Linked DNA regions of Homo sapiens. The protein of the gene in region 1 interacts with the protein of each later gene in a pairwise test. Each region holds a gene or a part of one and is shown in the gene's direction. Other genes may lie near its edges.

Region 1 (4,569 bases):
ACACTGACCTTAGCCTAAAGTTGGGCAAAATCATCTAACTCAAAGCCTATTTTACAAGAAAGTGTTGAATATCTCATGTAACTTACTTAATACTGTACTAAAAGTGAAAAACAGAATGGTTGTACGGGTACTCGAAATCCAGTTTCTACTGAATGTGCATCTCTTTCACATTGTAAAGTTAAAAAATTGTAGCCGAACCATCCTAAGTCAGGGACTGTGAGTACTGTGTCAGTAACAGTAAGGGCACTATTGGAGAACCAAGTTAGCAGCTGCTGCAATAGTTCAAGTCAGAGATGATGAAAACCTAGACCAAGTCAGTAGCAGCAGAGATGGAGGGGAGACAGCAGATTTAGGGAGAGCATATTGGGTGATGTAGGGAAGGAAGAAGAATGATGTCAAGATTCCCAGTTGGGGACCTGACAACATTGCAACATAAGACACACAAGAAGATCGGGTGGGTGGCTCATGCCTATAATCCCAGCACTTTGGGAGGCAGAGCCAGGAGGATCACTTGAGCCCAGGAGTTCAAGACCAGCACAGGCAACATAGTGACACCTCATCGTTACAAAAAATAAAAAAAAAAATGAGGTGGGAGGATTGCTTGAGCTCGGGAGGTTGAGGCTACAATAAACTGTGATCATGCCACTGCACTCCTGCCTGGGTGACAGAGTGAGACCCTGCCTCAAAAAAAAAAGACACACAAGAGAAAAATATCAGCGTGTTGTTTGTTTTTGGTGGAGTTAATTGTGGGGTTCTAGGGAAAGGAATTTAGCTTGGGACATGGAAAGTTTGAGGTTCCTGTAGAGTGTCCCAGTGAAGATTTGTAATAGAGCATCGGATGCGCATATTAGATGGCACTTGGTGATATGATAAGAACTCAAAAAATATTTGAGGAATAAAGGAAAGAAGAGGCCAGACGTGGTGGCTTATGCCTGTAATCCCAGCACTTTGGGAGGCTGAGGCAGGCGGATCACTTGTGGTCAGGAGTTCGAGACCAGCTTGGCTAACATGGTGAAAACCCATCTCTACTAAAGATACAAAAATTAACCGGGGATGATGGTGGGTGCCTGTAATCCCAGCTACTTGGGAGGCTCAGTCAGAAGAATCGCTTGAACCCAGGAGGCGGAGGCTGCAGTGAGCCGAGATCGCGCCACTGCACTCTAGCCTGGGCAACAGAGCCAGACTCCGTCTCAAAAAAAAAAAAGTGAGAGAGATTGAGGCTGGGATATATGGCTCAGGCATCATGCGCGTGTAGGGGGCAGTTAAAAAGCAGAAGTAAGAAAGATTGCCTAGGGAGGCAGGAAGGGTGAGGTGAGAGGAGAAGAGGCCCAGGACCAGATTCTAGTCACCAACAGCGTTTAAGGGGCAGGTAAGGAAAACAAAACCATCAGCAAAGACTGAGAATGAAAGCCCAGAGAGGAAGGAAAAGCCACACATACAATCAGTACAGCTCCATCTGAATAAAGGTAGCGCCCCCCCCCCCCCCAAATCATTAGAGAAATGCCTGAATCGTGTTTTCTGTTGATATTTCCTAAGCACCTAGATGTAGGGAATAGAAATAAATGGCTCCCTCTGTCTCATCCCCTTCCTGCCCTCTGAGAGGCAGCTGTGAATGCGTGCTTCCTTTCTGGGGGTGCAGATACTTTCTGGACCAACCCTCAGTACCGTCTGAAGCTCCTGGAGGAGGACGATGACCCTGATGACTCGGAGGTGATTTGCAGCTTCCTGGTGGCCCTGATGCAGAAGAACCGGCGGAAGGACCGGAAGCTAGGGGCCAGTCTCTTCACCATTGGCTTCGCCATCTACGAGGTGTGCAGTCCTGATTGGCTCCAGCCCAGGAAACATACTTTCCCAGGGAGGACGCTTCCAGGGGCTTCTAGAGGGGCCCTCTGGCTTCCTCAATACCCAGTGACCCACAGAGCTCCTGGTATCAGGACCACTTGTGTTTGTAACAAGCAAAAAATACCAGGGGGGGCATTAGAGAGGCAGTGGAGCGGGCCTGGCAGAACAGGTGCCTGGGGGTCAGGCTTCCGCATGCGGGCTGCAGTTGCTGGCATTGCCTTCCGCAGGCTCCTCATCCTCATTCACATCTGAAGCATCTTCCTTTCTGTTTCTTCTCAAGGTTCCCAAAGAGGTATAGCAGCAGCAGCGGCCAGCAGTTGTGTGCAGCACTACCCAGGGGGCCCCGAGTCTGTCTGTGGCTCGTCGAGAAGCTTCCTGGTGGGGTTTGTGGGCAGGACTGTGATAGGAGAGGGCCTTGCCTGTGTTATTTCCACTGCAGAGCAGGTGCCTCAGGGCATTGCATGACCCATGACTACCACCCCCAGGATGTGCACTTTCTCCCTCGCACCAGACACTGCACGTCACACACATGCCTTTGCACACTCACCCTCCTCCACGCTTACAGCCACACACACAGTCACACAGACGCGTTCTGAGGGTGGCTGCCCGCTTGGGATGGAGGAATCACTTCCCTCAGAACCCAGCCAAGTCCTCTAGGCCTCCTTGGGGGTCCTTCCAGCCTGAGGGGCTTCGGAGCTGAGGAGCAGCTGTTCTGGTAAGTGTCCCTGAGTGTGGGGATGACACATTTGCCATTCACTCTGAATCACAACAGAAAAGGAAGAGGAAGTGAGGTAGGGAGGCTATTTAAGCCTTGGGAGTCGGAAGTAGGGAGGTTGAAACTGTGACATGGGTGACCAGGGAGTTGGGAAGGGACCCTTGGAGGTGGCTGTGGCAGGACAGGATGTTCCTCCCGAGGGGCTCATGTGCCCTGGGCTCTCCCCATCTCTCAGATGCACGGGAACAAGCAGCACCTGCAGAAGGACTTCTTCCTGTACAACGCCTCCAAGGCCAGGAGCAAAACCTACATCAACATGCGGGAGGTGTCCCAGCGCTTCCGCCTGCCTCCCAGCGAGTACGTCATCGTGCCCTCCACCTACGAGCCCCACCAGGAGGGGGAATTCATCCTCCGGGTCTTCTCTGAAAAGAGGAACCTCTCTGAGTGAGTGCTGGCCCAGCTTTCCCACGTGTTTCTAAAAGCTCACATGGCCCACTCCAGAGGTTGAAGGCATGAGGCAGCTAGACACGTCTCCTCCAGGGTCCTTCTGCTGCTCCTGAGCCACTGGCCACATTACCCCCATTCATTCATTCATCCATTCTGTGATATTTATTGAGCACCTACTATGTTCCAGGCACTGTCCTAGGCACTAAGGATAGAGTAGTGAAGTAAACAGAAAGAAATCCCTGCCTTCATGGAGCTTAATATTCTAACATGAGACAATAATGGATAGGAAAAACATATGTAGCATGTTAGATTTGGAGAGGTGATATGGAGCAAAAATAAAGTAGGGAAGAGGGATAGGAGGTGTTGGGGATGCTTGAAATTTTAGGTTAGCATGGCCAGGAAAGCCACATCCTGTCCCTGGCCACCACAGATGAGCTCATAGCCCCTGCCACTCTGATCTCTGTCCTTGGAAGATGCACCAGGTCCATGGGTAGGTGGCTGGGTCATGCCTTTGGGGGGCTCTGAGCAATACTAACAAGAACCTGCGTGCCTGGGCTTGGCTGTCGGGGATGGTGCTGACATGGGGCTGGTTCCTGGGGTTGGGGTGTTCCAGGGGTTCTCTAGAGGCTGGTTCTGGCTTGGCTGCCAGGAAGCCGTGCACCAGAGCAAACCGTCCACGGGCCTCCTGCTTGCTTCTGGTGACACTGAGACCCCACATGTCTGTATTCCTCACAGGGAAGTTGAAAATACCATCTCCGTGGATCGGCCAGTGGTGAGTGGTTTAGATCTTCTGTGCGAAAAGTCCAGAGGGTCCCCTTCCCTGACCATGCAGGGGACAGATGGTGCAGGGGAGAATGGGCACTGGCAGAGGGAATGGGAGTCTGGGCTGTGCTGAGCAGTCCCTCCTTGGCACTGCAAATCCTACTTTGGCATGGCCAGAAGTAATCGGCCTTAAGCACCGGGGGCCATTGAGGCAGTTCAGGGGCTGGGAAATATGGAAGAGGGTCCTGGAAAGGAGAAGCAATTTGAACAATCGGAGGGAACAAGGCCACAGGAAGGGATGACAAGAGCCGCAGCGAACACTGGATTCTGAGACTGGATAACATTGGATTTCACACATAGAGAAAAGAAAGTAAGCTGGTGCCGGACCTGGTGTTGACACTTGGATCCTCCACTTACCAGCGGGGTGACCTGGACAATTTCTGTAATCCCTCTCACTCAGTTTCCTACTCAGTAAAACGGGGATGATAATGTGCCTTGCAAGGCTTTTGTGAGGCTTCATCAATGAGGTGATGTATGTGAAGTGTCTGGCACAGCATGGGCACTCAAACAGAGGTGCTTTTTCACACTTTACACCTTACAAGGTACTTTTCACATGTGTCATCGCGATACTTGCAAGGTTGCTGAGAGGTAGATGGGGTTATAATCCCTGGTGTTCAAGAAAGGAAGCAGAGGCTCAATGGGGTTGAATGACTTCTCTGAGTTCACAGAGCTCAGTAAGTGGCAGGGTTGGAACTCACATTCAGACTCTCTGACTCCAGACTTAGGTTTTTCCGCACCTCCAC
Region 2 (4,114 bases), on another chromosome or scaffold:
CCAGTTAAAAGTTAATTGCTCCTGGTGATTTGTCCCAGTTCCACCATGAATTTTATGCAATTTATTGCAAAGATTAAATGGATATCCTTTAAGTAACAAGCTAACAAGGTCAGCTTATCTCACTGGGAGGTAGAGAAGTGACTGTAATTCCTATTCCGCCAAAAATGAGAAGACCCCAGTATTTTTGCAATTTATTTGTGACCTCAAGAATAAAATGGGCTCATGCAGATTAAGTAACTTGCACCAAGTTACACAGCTCGTGAGCAGTAGAAGAGGTCTCCAGACTCCCTCTGTTGGGATCCAGATCCCATGCACTTAGCCATCTGTCTTCCCTGGATTGAGAAATATCAACTGTAGAACAAGTGTCCACAGGACATGGGAGCATATGAGGTTAATTGGGCATGAGCTAGGGCATGAACAAGCTTTTTGTCTTCAGTGCACACTGACAGATACTATTCCTGGTAGTGGTGATGGTGGAAGTGATCCATCCACATACTAATTGTTTCCCTTAATGGCTAATAGTCATTAGGTATGAATTATTTATACTTAGGTGTTAGCATTTTGTACCTGGTAATTAGGTACAAAAATGGGAGAGCCACATTAAACAATGTACCAAAGGTCTCTTTCTGGAACTTTCTATGAGCAATAGGTTGGAAATCTAAGTATCAGTGCACAGAAATCAATGCATTATGGCAGTAGAAAAAGCCAGAAAATGGGAATTGGGAAAGAAGGATTCTATCTTGGCACCACCACTCTAATATTTGGCAGATGACTTCCCCTTTCTGGACCTCATTCCCCATCTGTCCAGTGATAGAGTTGAACTAAATAATTTTCTTTTAAGGCCTTTCCAGTTCTTACATTTTGCGATTCATTACATCAAAAATAGTATGTTAGCATTGCTTGTAACCCTCTTCAAGTCTTTTTATGGTTACTGCTAATGGGAATCATTAAATCGTTAACAACTGGAAGCAACAATAATCATTTAGTGTCTCTAATATAAGTATCTACCAATCCTTGAATAGTTTTTTTTCTTTTTTTTTGTGAATGTATGAATTACTAAAGGGAGTTGCAGATAGCAAGATGGGGGTGGTTTTTATGGCTGTTTGTTGTTTCCATCCTGGCAAATGGAACATAGTTTCTAAACTAGGATCTTTATGTGTGCTGGACCACGTGTATAATGTCAGAAAAGGTTTAATTTAAAATAATGAGATGAAAATTACCTTGTAGAAGAATCGTTTGAAATGTTTAGACTTGAGCAAACGGGTGTACAGGTGTGTATCACTACGATTTTCACAAAGTGACCATGGAAGTTGTCTGGTTCTGACCCTCATGGGATCACACCTCTGTTTGTCAGGCAGAGGCACAGAAGGTCAGGCTGGAAAAGGGCTGTGGTCTTTGCAGAGATAGAGCAGGCAGGGTTAGACTTCCCCATAGTCAGACCCTGCCTGCTCTTCATTTTGCAGGTGTCCTGGGGGCATCAGAAGCCTCCTCATCTCACTTTTGTGTGCCCTTCTCCCCCAGTGCCTTAGGAGAGAAATTAACCCGCACCTGCCCTTCATGTTTTACAGGCCAGCGCAGGACATCTCATTGCCATTGTCAGCCAGGAACTCGCAGCCTCACAGCCCTACTTCTTCTCTGACCTCTGGGGGGTCCTTGCCCTTGCTACAATCTCCACCATCCACTAGATTGTCTCCTGCCCGACACCCCTTGGTCCCAAACCAGGGAGACCATTCAGCTCACCTGCCTAGGCCGCAGCAGCATTTCCTTCCTAATCAGGCTCACCAGGGGGATCATTACCGTCTCTCCCAACCTGGCCTGAGTCAGCAGCAGCAGCAACAGCAGCAGCAGCACCATCATCACCATCACCACCAACAACAGCAGCAGCAGCAGCCACAGCAGCAGCCAGGAGAAGCCTATTCAGCTATGCCTCGGGCTCAGCCATCCTCTGCTTCTTATCAGCCAGTGCCAGCAGACCCTTTTGCCATTGTTTCCAGAGCCCAGCAGATGGTTGAGATCCTCTCAGACGAGAACCGGAACTTGAGGCAAGAGTTGGAAGGATGCTATGAGAAGGTGGCAAGACTGCAGAAGGTGAGGCTTCCGTTTTGGGATATTAGGGTCTCTAAGTCTTTATTTGTGAGACTTGTTTAATATCCACATTAAAGTCTCCAGTTGTGAATCCCAGCATTACTTGTGGCAGGTCTTCAGGATTTTTATATCTGAAGGTTAGATATGAGTCAAACTTTGGAAAAAGCCTTCTACCTGTCTACCTAGGAGAAGTAACGTCTTACATTTACACAAGGAGAAAAAAATTTATGCAGTTTTTCCAGACGCTATAGCCCTAAAGAAAACGTGATTAATTCTTTTAGAATTCCAAAAGGCAGTGATACTTCTTGATAAGAATACTGGTGATGCCTTTATAGGTAAAGGATCTGACGGCACCTTAAGGCTCATTGTCTTGGTCACATTTTCCCAAATATGAATTTGAATCTTAAATATAAAAATAAATGTAGTTCCTAGAAAAATCTCACCAGCTAAAGTTTGAGCAGTCCTGCCTTGTTCTGGAAAAGGCTCAGAATACTTTTTCCTAGTGGGAGTTCTCATAGTAACTCTCTTTCAACAATCCCTCCACCCCACCCTTTGATTTGGTCCCTCCCTGCAGCTCAAATTCAACATCTGCTCTCTTTCTCTGTTGTATGTGGGGGGCAGGAGGGGCTTAACACCACAGCTGGGTGACAGGTGACAGCCCTAGGCTGAGGAAATAGAAAAAGGAGTGTATCTCCAGTTCACATTCTTCTCTGCCCACCCCCATTGGGACTTTACCTCTGGAGTACCCCAAGCGAGGAACCTTAGCTCTTGGCTTCCAGGGGCTGCTGGTGAATAGGGTTATGCCTTTGGCCGCTTCTTTGCAGCTTTTGTCATTGTGGAGCTATTGTGGTTTGGTCTCCCTACAATGTGAACTGTTCAGAGAGGTGAGGGTGAAGGTGGGGGAGGGACAGGAGGATGCCTTGTATTGTCCAGCAACTCTGTCCTTAGGAAACACCAGGAGTGAAAATTTCAGAGGCCTGAATGAAGCTGAGTATTTGTAAACAGACACCAAATCTGGGGGCCTCAAGGAGACAGGGGCTTATTATCAGCAGATGATTTTTTTTCTTTCTTTCTTTTTTTTTTTTTTTGAGACGGAGTCTCGCTCTTGTTACCTAGCCTGCAGTGCAATGGCACGATCTCCACTCACTGCAACTTCCGCCTCCTGGGTTCAAGCAGTTCTCCTGCCTCAGCCTCCTGAGTAGCTGGGATTACAGGCATGTGTCACCACGCCTGGCTAATTTTGTATTTTTAGTAGAGACGGGGTTTCTCCATGTTGGCCAGGCTGGTCTCGAACTCCCGACCTCAGGTGATCCGCCCGCCTTGGTCTCCCAAAGTGCTGGGATTATAGGCGTGAGCCACTGCGCCTGGCAAACAGAGGATTTTTATATAGGAAAATGGCTTCCCTGTCCCTTAGTTTTCCTAAATCTGGATGAGGGTTGTTGGAGTGCTCTGAGAATTGTTTCTTCCCGGCTTTTCCCTGATTTTGTATTTTCACCCGCAAATTTTAACTATATCCCTATCCCCATCGCTTTGGTGAAATAAATTAATTATATCCATACACTAGAAACCCAGTCTGGCTGATTAGGCTAACAGTTGACACCCCCTCTCCAAACTCTCTCTTCATGGTGATCCCAGCCCATCTTTGATACAATCACTGAAGGATGAACCCAGCTCTAATACGGGCCCTTTTTGCCAGAGGATCCATGGTGATTTTTTGTGTGTGTGGGAGTGGGTTCAGCCAGTGACAGGGAAGAGGGACAGAGAATAGGATTGCTGTTGTTTGTTCCCCAAGATGGGAAAAGATGCCTCAAATAAGTGTAACTGGAACAGCTTGAATGTTGGGAAAGTAGAGGCTGACCCAGTGTCGAGGTAGAGTAGAGGGGAAGGTGGACCAGGAGAGGAAAAGGAAAGTGGGGAAAATTAAGGTAGATCCCAGGTAGTGCTGGAGGAAATGAAAAGGCCTGAGGCTCATGAGGGGAATAAGTAGACAGAGTAAGTCTGGAAAACCCACTGCCACCCTCCTCTCTGC
Region 3 (3,293 bases), on another chromosome or scaffold:
TAGAGATGAGGTTTCACTATGTTGGCCAGGTTGGTCTCTAACTCCTGAGCCTCGGCCTCCCAAAGTGTTGTGAGCCCACCGCACCTGGCCTGGTGTTTTGTTTTTGTTTTTGAGACGGAGTTTCGCTCTTGTTGCCCAGGCTGGAGTGTGCAGTGGTACAATCTCGGCTCACTGCAACCTCCGCCTCTCGGGTTCAAGTGATTCTTCTGCCTGGGCCTCCCGAGTAGCTGGGATTAGAGGCGCCCACCACAATGCCAGGCTAATTTTTTGTATTTTTAGTAGAGATGGGGGTTTCACCATGTTGGCCAGGCTGGTCTCGAACTCCTGATCTCAGGTGACCCGCCTGCCTCGGCCTCCCAAAGTGCTGGGATTACAGGCGTTAGCCACTGTGCCCGGCCAGTGATTTAGTTCTGATTAAGTCCTGCCCCCGGCCCTCCGGACATGTTTCTCATCCCTAAGCCCTCCGCCCAGCCCTCACGTTCTGCCCCGCCCTCTCGTGCTCTGTCCCGCCCTGGCACTCCGCTCTGCCCCTTGCGGTCTATCCCATCCCCTGTGCTCTGTCCACCCCCTACATTCTGCCCCACCCCTGGTGCTCTCTACCCCTTACCCTGTGGTGTGTCTGGTCCTTCTTGCTCTGCCCCGCCACTCATGGTCGCCCCACTCCAGTGCTGTACCCGGCCCCTTTTGCTCTGTCCCAGCCCCTGTGCTGTGCCCTGTCCCTCTTGCTCTGCTCTTCCCCCTGCACAGTGCTCTGCCCCTCTTGCTCTGCCCCGCCCTCCTGTGCTGTGCCCCGCCCCTCCTGCCCTGCCCTACTCACTGCACTGTGCCCAGCCCCTCCTGCTCTGCCCCGCTCCCGCACCGTGACCGCTCCTCTTGCTCTGCCCTTCCCCCTGCACTGTGCCCCGCCCCTCTTGCTCTGCCCCACCCCCTGTGCTCGGCTTGGGCCCCCAACATTCTGCCGGTCCCCTGGTACTCTACTCCTCCCTCCCGACCTCACGCTTCGCAGCTCCCCCAGTGCTCTGCCTGGCCCCTCTAACTGTCCCTCCACCCAGTGCCTTCAATTGCTCAACCTGGGATCCCCGCTCAGTTGACCTTGCTCCCGCAGGCTAGAGCAGGCTGACCTCATTCTGGCCATGCTGGATGCTTCTGACCTGGCCTCTCCCTCCAGTTGCAACTTCCTGGCCACCGTCGTAGCCTCTGTGGGAGCCCAGAGCCCCAGTGACAGCAGCCAGCGCCTCCTCCTGGTGCTGAACAAGTCGGACCTGCTGTCCCCGGAGGGCCCAGGTCCCGGTCCTGACCTGCCCCCGCACCTGCTGCTGTCCTGTCTGACGGGAGAGGGGCTGGACGGCCTCCTGGAGGCGCTGAGGAAGGAGCTAGCTGCAGTGTGAGCCCCCTCCCACTCCCAGCCTCCCCTGACCCACAGTTTAAGTGTGGGTCCCTCAACTTCAATTTCTGAACCTACAAAATGGGTACAACCATTTCCCCTTCAAGGGATGGTTGTAAAAGGTCGGGAGAGACCATGTCTCTTGTCTCTTCCAGGTGTGGGGACCCGTCCACAGATCCCCCGCTGCTGACCCGAGCAAGGCACCAGCACCACCTCCAGGGTTGCCTGGATGCCCTCGGCCACTACAAGCAGTCAAAAGACCTGGCCCTGGCGGCAGAGGCGCTGCGGGTGGCCCGGGGTCACCTGACCCGGCTCACAGGTGGAGGGGGTACCGAGGAGATCCTGGACATCATCTTCCAGGACTTCTGTGTGGGCAAGTGACGGGATCCAGGGAAGTCGCACCCAAGCTGCGTGGAGACCCAGGAGCCTCGGGGGATCTGGAAACAGTTTAGGCCAATTGGGATTCTCATTCGCCTGGGAAAGAACTTGATTCTCAAATAGTGAAGCAACACAGCTGAGAGGTAGTGAGATCCCTGCAGGGACTCCCTGGAGATTCAGGCCCTGGAATGGGGCTGAATGGAGGTCCCGTTCGACCCTTGATGCTGGGGCATCCGGGTTGGGATGGAGATAGGAGGATCTCAGTATATTTGTTTCGTAGTTTTTTATTTATTTTGCAAATACCAAAGGAATGTAAAAAAAACTCAGGTGATCTAGAAGTGTTTATTTTCTTCCCTTCCCTTCCCTTCCCTTTCCTTTTCCCTTTCCCTTTCCCCTTCCCCTTCCCCTTCCCCTTCCCCTACCCTTCCCTCCTCTGTCTATTGCCCAGGCTGGAGTGCAGTGGTGCGACCTTGGCTCACTGCAACCTCCATCTCCGGGGCTCAAGCGCTTCTCCTGCCTCAGCCTCCTGAGTAGCTGGGATTACAGGCATGTGCCAGCATGCCCGGCTAATTTTTTTCTTTTTTTGAGACAGAGTCTCGCTCTGTCACCCAGGCTGGAGTTCAGTGGTGCGACCTCGGCTTACTGCAACCTCCACCTCCCGGGTTCAAGTGATTCTCCTGCCTCAGCCTCTTGAGTAGCTGGGACTACAGGCGCACACCACCACGCCAGGCTAATTTTTGTATTTTTAGTAGAGACAAGGTTTCACCATGTTGACCAGGCTGGTCTTGAACTCCTTGACCTCAGGTAATCTGCCTACCTTGGCCTCCCAAAGTGCTGGGATCACAGGCGTGAGCTATCACACCTGGCCCCAGAAGTGTTTCAACATGGAAATTTTCCTTAGCCCTTCTGTGGTTGTCATGGCTTAATGTGTGTCTTTCCAGAACTTTGAATGTTTGCATACTTGTGGATGTACCTTTCAAATATGTTTGTCTTGTGTATCATATATAAATGGTATTGTGTTCATTGCTCTACAAATTGTCATTTCTTTTTAAAAAAAAAACAGAATTATGGAGATGGGGGGTCTCACTATGTTGCCCAGGCTGGTCTTGAGCTCTTGGACTCAAGCCATCCTGCTGTCTTGGCCTCCCAAAGTGCTGGGATTACAGGTGTGAGCCACGGTGCCTGGCCTCATTCCTTTTTTAGTCTTTAGTCTTCTTTTTTTTTTTTTTTTTTTTTGATGGGGTTTCACTGTGTTAGCCAGGCTGGTCTTGATCTCCTGACCTTGTGATCTGCCCACCTGTGGCCTCCCAAAGTGTGTGTGTGTGTGTGTGTGTGTGTGTGTGTGTGTGTGTGTGTGTGACAGAGTCTTGCTCTGTTGCCCAGACTGAAGTGCAGTGGTGTGATCTCAGCTCACTGCAGCCTCTGCCTCCTGAGCTCAAGCCATTCTCGTGCCTCAGCCTCCCGAGCAGCTGGGATCATAGGTGTACCCTACCACACCTGGCTAACTTTTGTATTTTTAGTAGAGATGGGT
Region 4 (4,104 bases), on another chromosome or scaffold:
CTCGATTTCCTGGGCTCAAGCCATCCTCCTGCCTAGATCCCTGAGCAGCTGGGACTACAGGCACGCACCACCACGCCCGCCTAATTTTGTACTTTTTGTAGAGGCGGGGTTTTGCCGTGTTCCCCTGGCTGGTCTCAAACTCCTGAGCTCAAGCAATCCTTCTGACTCGCCTTCCTAAAGTGCTGGGATTACAGATGTGAGCCACCGTGCCTGGTCATATTTGTTTTTGTCTACATCATAAGGGATGTTGAATCTTGGAAAATTTTAAGGAAGGAAGTGAAATCAGGGGTTGATGACTTGTGGAAAAATAATTGATCTTTCATTTTTTCAAGCATATTATCTAAAGGGTGTTTAGAAATTGGAAGGAGTAAGATGATCAGATCAAGAGGTAGTTGAATACCTTTCTCTAAGAAGAACAGAGAAAGGACTTAGGCTAGTTAGGAGAAGGTAATGAGAGAAATAAGATGATCTAGTTTACTGTGTTGGCATTTTTTAGTAAAAAGTATATCTTGAACCTGACCCATTAGACGGTGGCTTTTATATTTTGACTATTTCTAACTTTTACACCAAAGGCCACAAACTCAAATGACTATAGAGTACATACAGGTAATGTAAGTGAATGGCAGTCAAGACTGGGGTATAGTGAAGAATATATGCATCATGTAAGAAGAACGGCTGATTGTTTTCATGTGAGAATGCAGGCCTAAGATTGCTAGATCTGAGTCTTCAGGAAAAGCCAAAAGTTCAGAGGTTTATATGATGTCTCATATTGGAACTAATTCCACTTAAGGAAAAAAAAAACCCTACTACTGGGGAACTAATAAAACATAGCAAATTAATTGCATTTGGCCAATGAGCTTCCAATTTTCATCTGCTCTATACGATTAATGTAGAAACACAATTTCTCCCTTCTTTTTATTGTGCTTACCATAAAGAATGTAAGACTAATTAGCCTTTTTCCTCCCCTTAGGATGGTGCGTCCAAGGTTAACCATTTATGTTTGTCAGGAATCACTGCAGTTGAGGGAGCAGCAACAACAGCAGCAGCAACAGCAGCAGAAGCATGAGGATGGAGACTCAAATGGTACTTTCTTCGGTAGGTTGTTCTGGACACACTAGGACAGATATGAAGAAAGGTGAAGAGATAACTTATGGGCATGTGTGATGGGAAACTATCAAACAGCAGATTTAGTATTTGCTAGAAGTAACAATAATCACTAGCATTTATTAAGTTCCTAATACATGGCAGGTGCCATTCTTTTTTTTTTTTTTTGAGACAGAGTCTCACTCAGTTACCCAGGCTGAAGTACAGTGGCACAATCATGACTCATTGCAGCCTTGACCACCTGGGCTCAAGTGATTCTCTCCCCTCAGCCTACCGAGTAGCTAGAACTAAAGCTACTCATTTGCCTAATTGTTTTATTTATTGTAGAGATGGGATCTCCCTATGTTGCCCAGGCTGGTCTTGAACTCCTGGGCTCAAGCGATCTCCCTGCCTCAGCCTCCCAAATTGCTGGGACTATAGGTGTAAACCACTACACCCAGCCAGGTACTATTCTTAACACTTTTTATATGCTTTAATATTTACAACTAATATCTCCTCTTTGCGGAGGATTTTACTGTTATCTCCGGTATTTATGCAAGAAAAATCAGGCCTAGGAATGTTAAATAACTTGCCCTAGGTCACACAGCTGCAAGTGGTTGAGCCAGGATTTGAACTTAGGCAGTGTGATTTCTGAGTCCTTCAGAAAAGTGGGCATTCCTAGTGATCAAGTTACCTGTAAGAGTGGACAAACTTTGTACTGACTGCTGTTGCTCTCTCCCTTTTGCAGTTTACCATGCTATCTATCTAGAAGAACTAACAGCTGTTGAATTGACAGAAAAAATTGCTCAGCTTTTCAGCATTTCCCCTTGCCAGATCAGCCAGATTTACAAGCAGGGGCCAACAGGAATTCATGTGCTCATCAGTGATGAGGTAGATTTTTCAGTACAGTTGAATTACCAGATGATGATTAATTTGTCAGCGCATGGAGCAAGAGCAGTTCTCCTGGGGCAGAGTGTTCTGTTTTCTAGATCAGAGGGTTTCATACTTTTTTGCTTGCTTTCCTCCTAATTTTTTTTTTTTTTGAAACAGTCTCTCTCTGTTGCCCAGGCCGGAGTGCAGTGGCCCAATCTCAGGTCACTGCGACCTCCTCCTCCTGGATTCAAGTGATTCTCCTGTCTCAGCTTCCCGAATAGTGGGAATTACAGGCGTGCGCCACCACGCCTGGCTAATTTTTGTATTTTTAGTAGAGATGGGGTTTTGCCATGTTGGCCAGGTTGGTCTCAAACTCCTGGCCTCAAGTGATCCACCCGCCTCGGCCTCCCAAAGTGGTGGGATTCCAGATGTGAGCCACTGCGCCTGGTCCTAAAATATTTTAAAAACCACATATTCCCATGCACATTTTTAGGTTGACTTAAAATTTTTTGTTAAAGTTTAAATAGTTGTAAAAGATGTCATTTCTGGGCATATATAATGACATTTTTAAGTGAAATGGTTACATCATTATTCTAATTGCATCCCATGTAACCTTAATACAAAAATGATTTAATACCACCACCATCCATTAAAAAAAAATACATGATTGTGCTTTTCTTTAACAGTTAGAATTCTTATACTATTCCTCTGTTTCCTTGAACTCTTATTTTCATTTACTTCCCCCGGTGAATTTTATCTTACTGTAACTTTTTTTTTTTGAGACAGAGTCTCACTCTGTCGCCCAGGCTGTTGTGCGGTGGTGTGATCTCGGCTCACTGCAACCCCGCCTCCTAGGTTCAAGCAATTCTCCTGCCTCAGCCTCCCAAGTAGCTGGTATTACAGGCACCCACCACCATGCCTGGCTAATTTTTGTATTTTTAGTAGAGGCTGGGTTTCACCATGTGGCCAGTCTGGTCTCGAACTCCTGGCCTCAAGTGATCAACCCGCCTCAGCCTCCCGAAGTGCTGGGATTACAGATGTGAACCACCACGCCTGGCCATCTTACCATAACATATTTTTATGCACAAACATCTTTTATTGATTATCCTACTATATTTGTTTGAAATAAAGTTTTTAAATAAAAATTTAAAAATTATTATAATGGAATTATCATAATTATACAATTGATTAAAATAATGTAAATATGCTACATGTTTTAATAAGTAATTATTAAAGATTAAGAAGGCTGCCCAGGCGCAATGGCTCATGCCTGTAAACCCAGCACTTTGGGAGGCTGAGACGGGTGGATCACAAGGTCAGAAGTTCAAGACCATCGTGTCCAAGATGGTGAAACCCCATCTCTACTAAAAATACAAAAATTAGCTGGGCATGATGGCAGGTGCCTATAATCCCAGCTACTTGGGAGGCTGAGGCAGAGAACTGCTTGAACCCGAGAGGCAGAGGTTGCGGTGAGCCAAGATTGCGCCACCGCACTCCAGCCTAGGCGACAGAGCGAGACTTCATCCAAAAAAAGAAAAAAAGAAGGCCAGGCACAGTGGCTCACACCTGTAATCCCAGCACTTTGGGAGGCCGAGGCAAGCAGATCACCTGAGGTCAGGAGTTTGACCAACATAGAGAAACCCTGTCTCTACTAAAATACAAAATTAGCCGGGTGTGGTGGCACGTGCCTATAATCCCACCTACTCAGGAGGCTGAGGCAGGAGAATCCCTTGAACCCAGGAGGCGGAGGTTGCGTGAGCCGAGATGGGGGCATTGCGCTCCAGCCTGGGCAACAAGAGCAAAACTCTGTCTCAGAAAAAAAAAAAAAAATTAAGAAAAAATTATTACAGGTATATCTATGAATGAGTTCGATGAAATTGTTTCGTTCCCTACCTGTACCCTTGCACATAATTATTTCCTTTGTAGCTGAATACTGCCTATTGATTGCTAGAATGACACAGGATTTCAGCATCAATTCCATTCTGTTTTTTTCCTCTAGATATAAATGCTGAGGGACTTGATTCCCATAAATTGATAGGAATGGATGGAATTTTGTAATGACAATGTCATTAGATTATACTTCAGAATTATATACCAGAAATTACATAGTGATATTACCAAAAAATCATTTTGAATCCTCTGTCTTAC

Evidence for each region.
Region 2: the proteins of CAPN3 (region 1) and AMOT interact in a two-hybrid assay, tested with the Homo sapiens proteins (one large-scale study listed by BioGRID and IntAct).
Region 3: the proteins of CAPN3 (region 1) and GTPBP3 interact in binary tests that used the Homo sapiens proteins (3 or more experiments, as listed by UniProt).
Region 4: the proteins of CAPN3 (region 1) and TFCP2 interact in binary tests that used the Homo sapiens proteins (3 or more experiments, as listed by UniProt).

Annotation. Positions count from the first base shown.
Region 1 is NC_000015.10:42,400,002-42,404,570, forward strand, and holds part of CAPN3 (calpain-3), read left to right. Parts: intron 1-1,639; coding exon 1,640-1,809; intron 1,810-2,122; coding exon 2,123-2,134; intron 2,135-2,365; exon of another isoform or gene 2,366-2,557; intron 2,558-2,792; coding exon 2,793-3,001; intron 3,002-3,739; coding exon 3,740-3,776; intron 3,777-4,569. UniProt on the Homo sapiens protein: Calcium-regulated non-lysosomal thiol-protease. Proteolytically cleaves CTBP1 at 'His-409'. Mediates, with UTP25, the proteasome-independent degradation of p53/TP53.
Region 2 is NC_000023.11:112,813,332-112,817,445, reverse strand, and holds part of AMOT (angiomotin), read left to right. Parts: intron 1-1,568; coding exon 1,569-2,088; intron 2,089-4,114.
Region 3 is NC_000019.10:17,339,939-17,343,231, forward strand, and holds the end of GTPBP3 (5-taurinomethyluridine-[tRNA] synthase subunit GTPB3, mitochondrial), read left to right. Parts: intron 1-1,105; coding exon 1,106-1,384; intron 1,385-1,539; coding exon 1,540-1,765; 3' UTR 1,766-2,793; downstream 2,794-3,293. UniProt on the Homo sapiens protein: GTPase component of the GTPBP3-MTO1 complex that catalyzes the 5-taurinomethyluridine (taum(5)U) modification at the 34th wobble position (U34) of mitochondrial tRNAs (mt-tRNAs), which plays a role in mt-tRNA decoding and mitochondrial translation.
Region 4 is NC_000012.12:51,096,646-51,100,749, reverse strand, and holds part of TFCP2 (alpha-globin transcription factor CP2), read left to right. Parts: intron 1-970; coding exon 971-1,095; intron 1,096-1,831; coding exon 1,832-1,974; intron 1,975-4,104.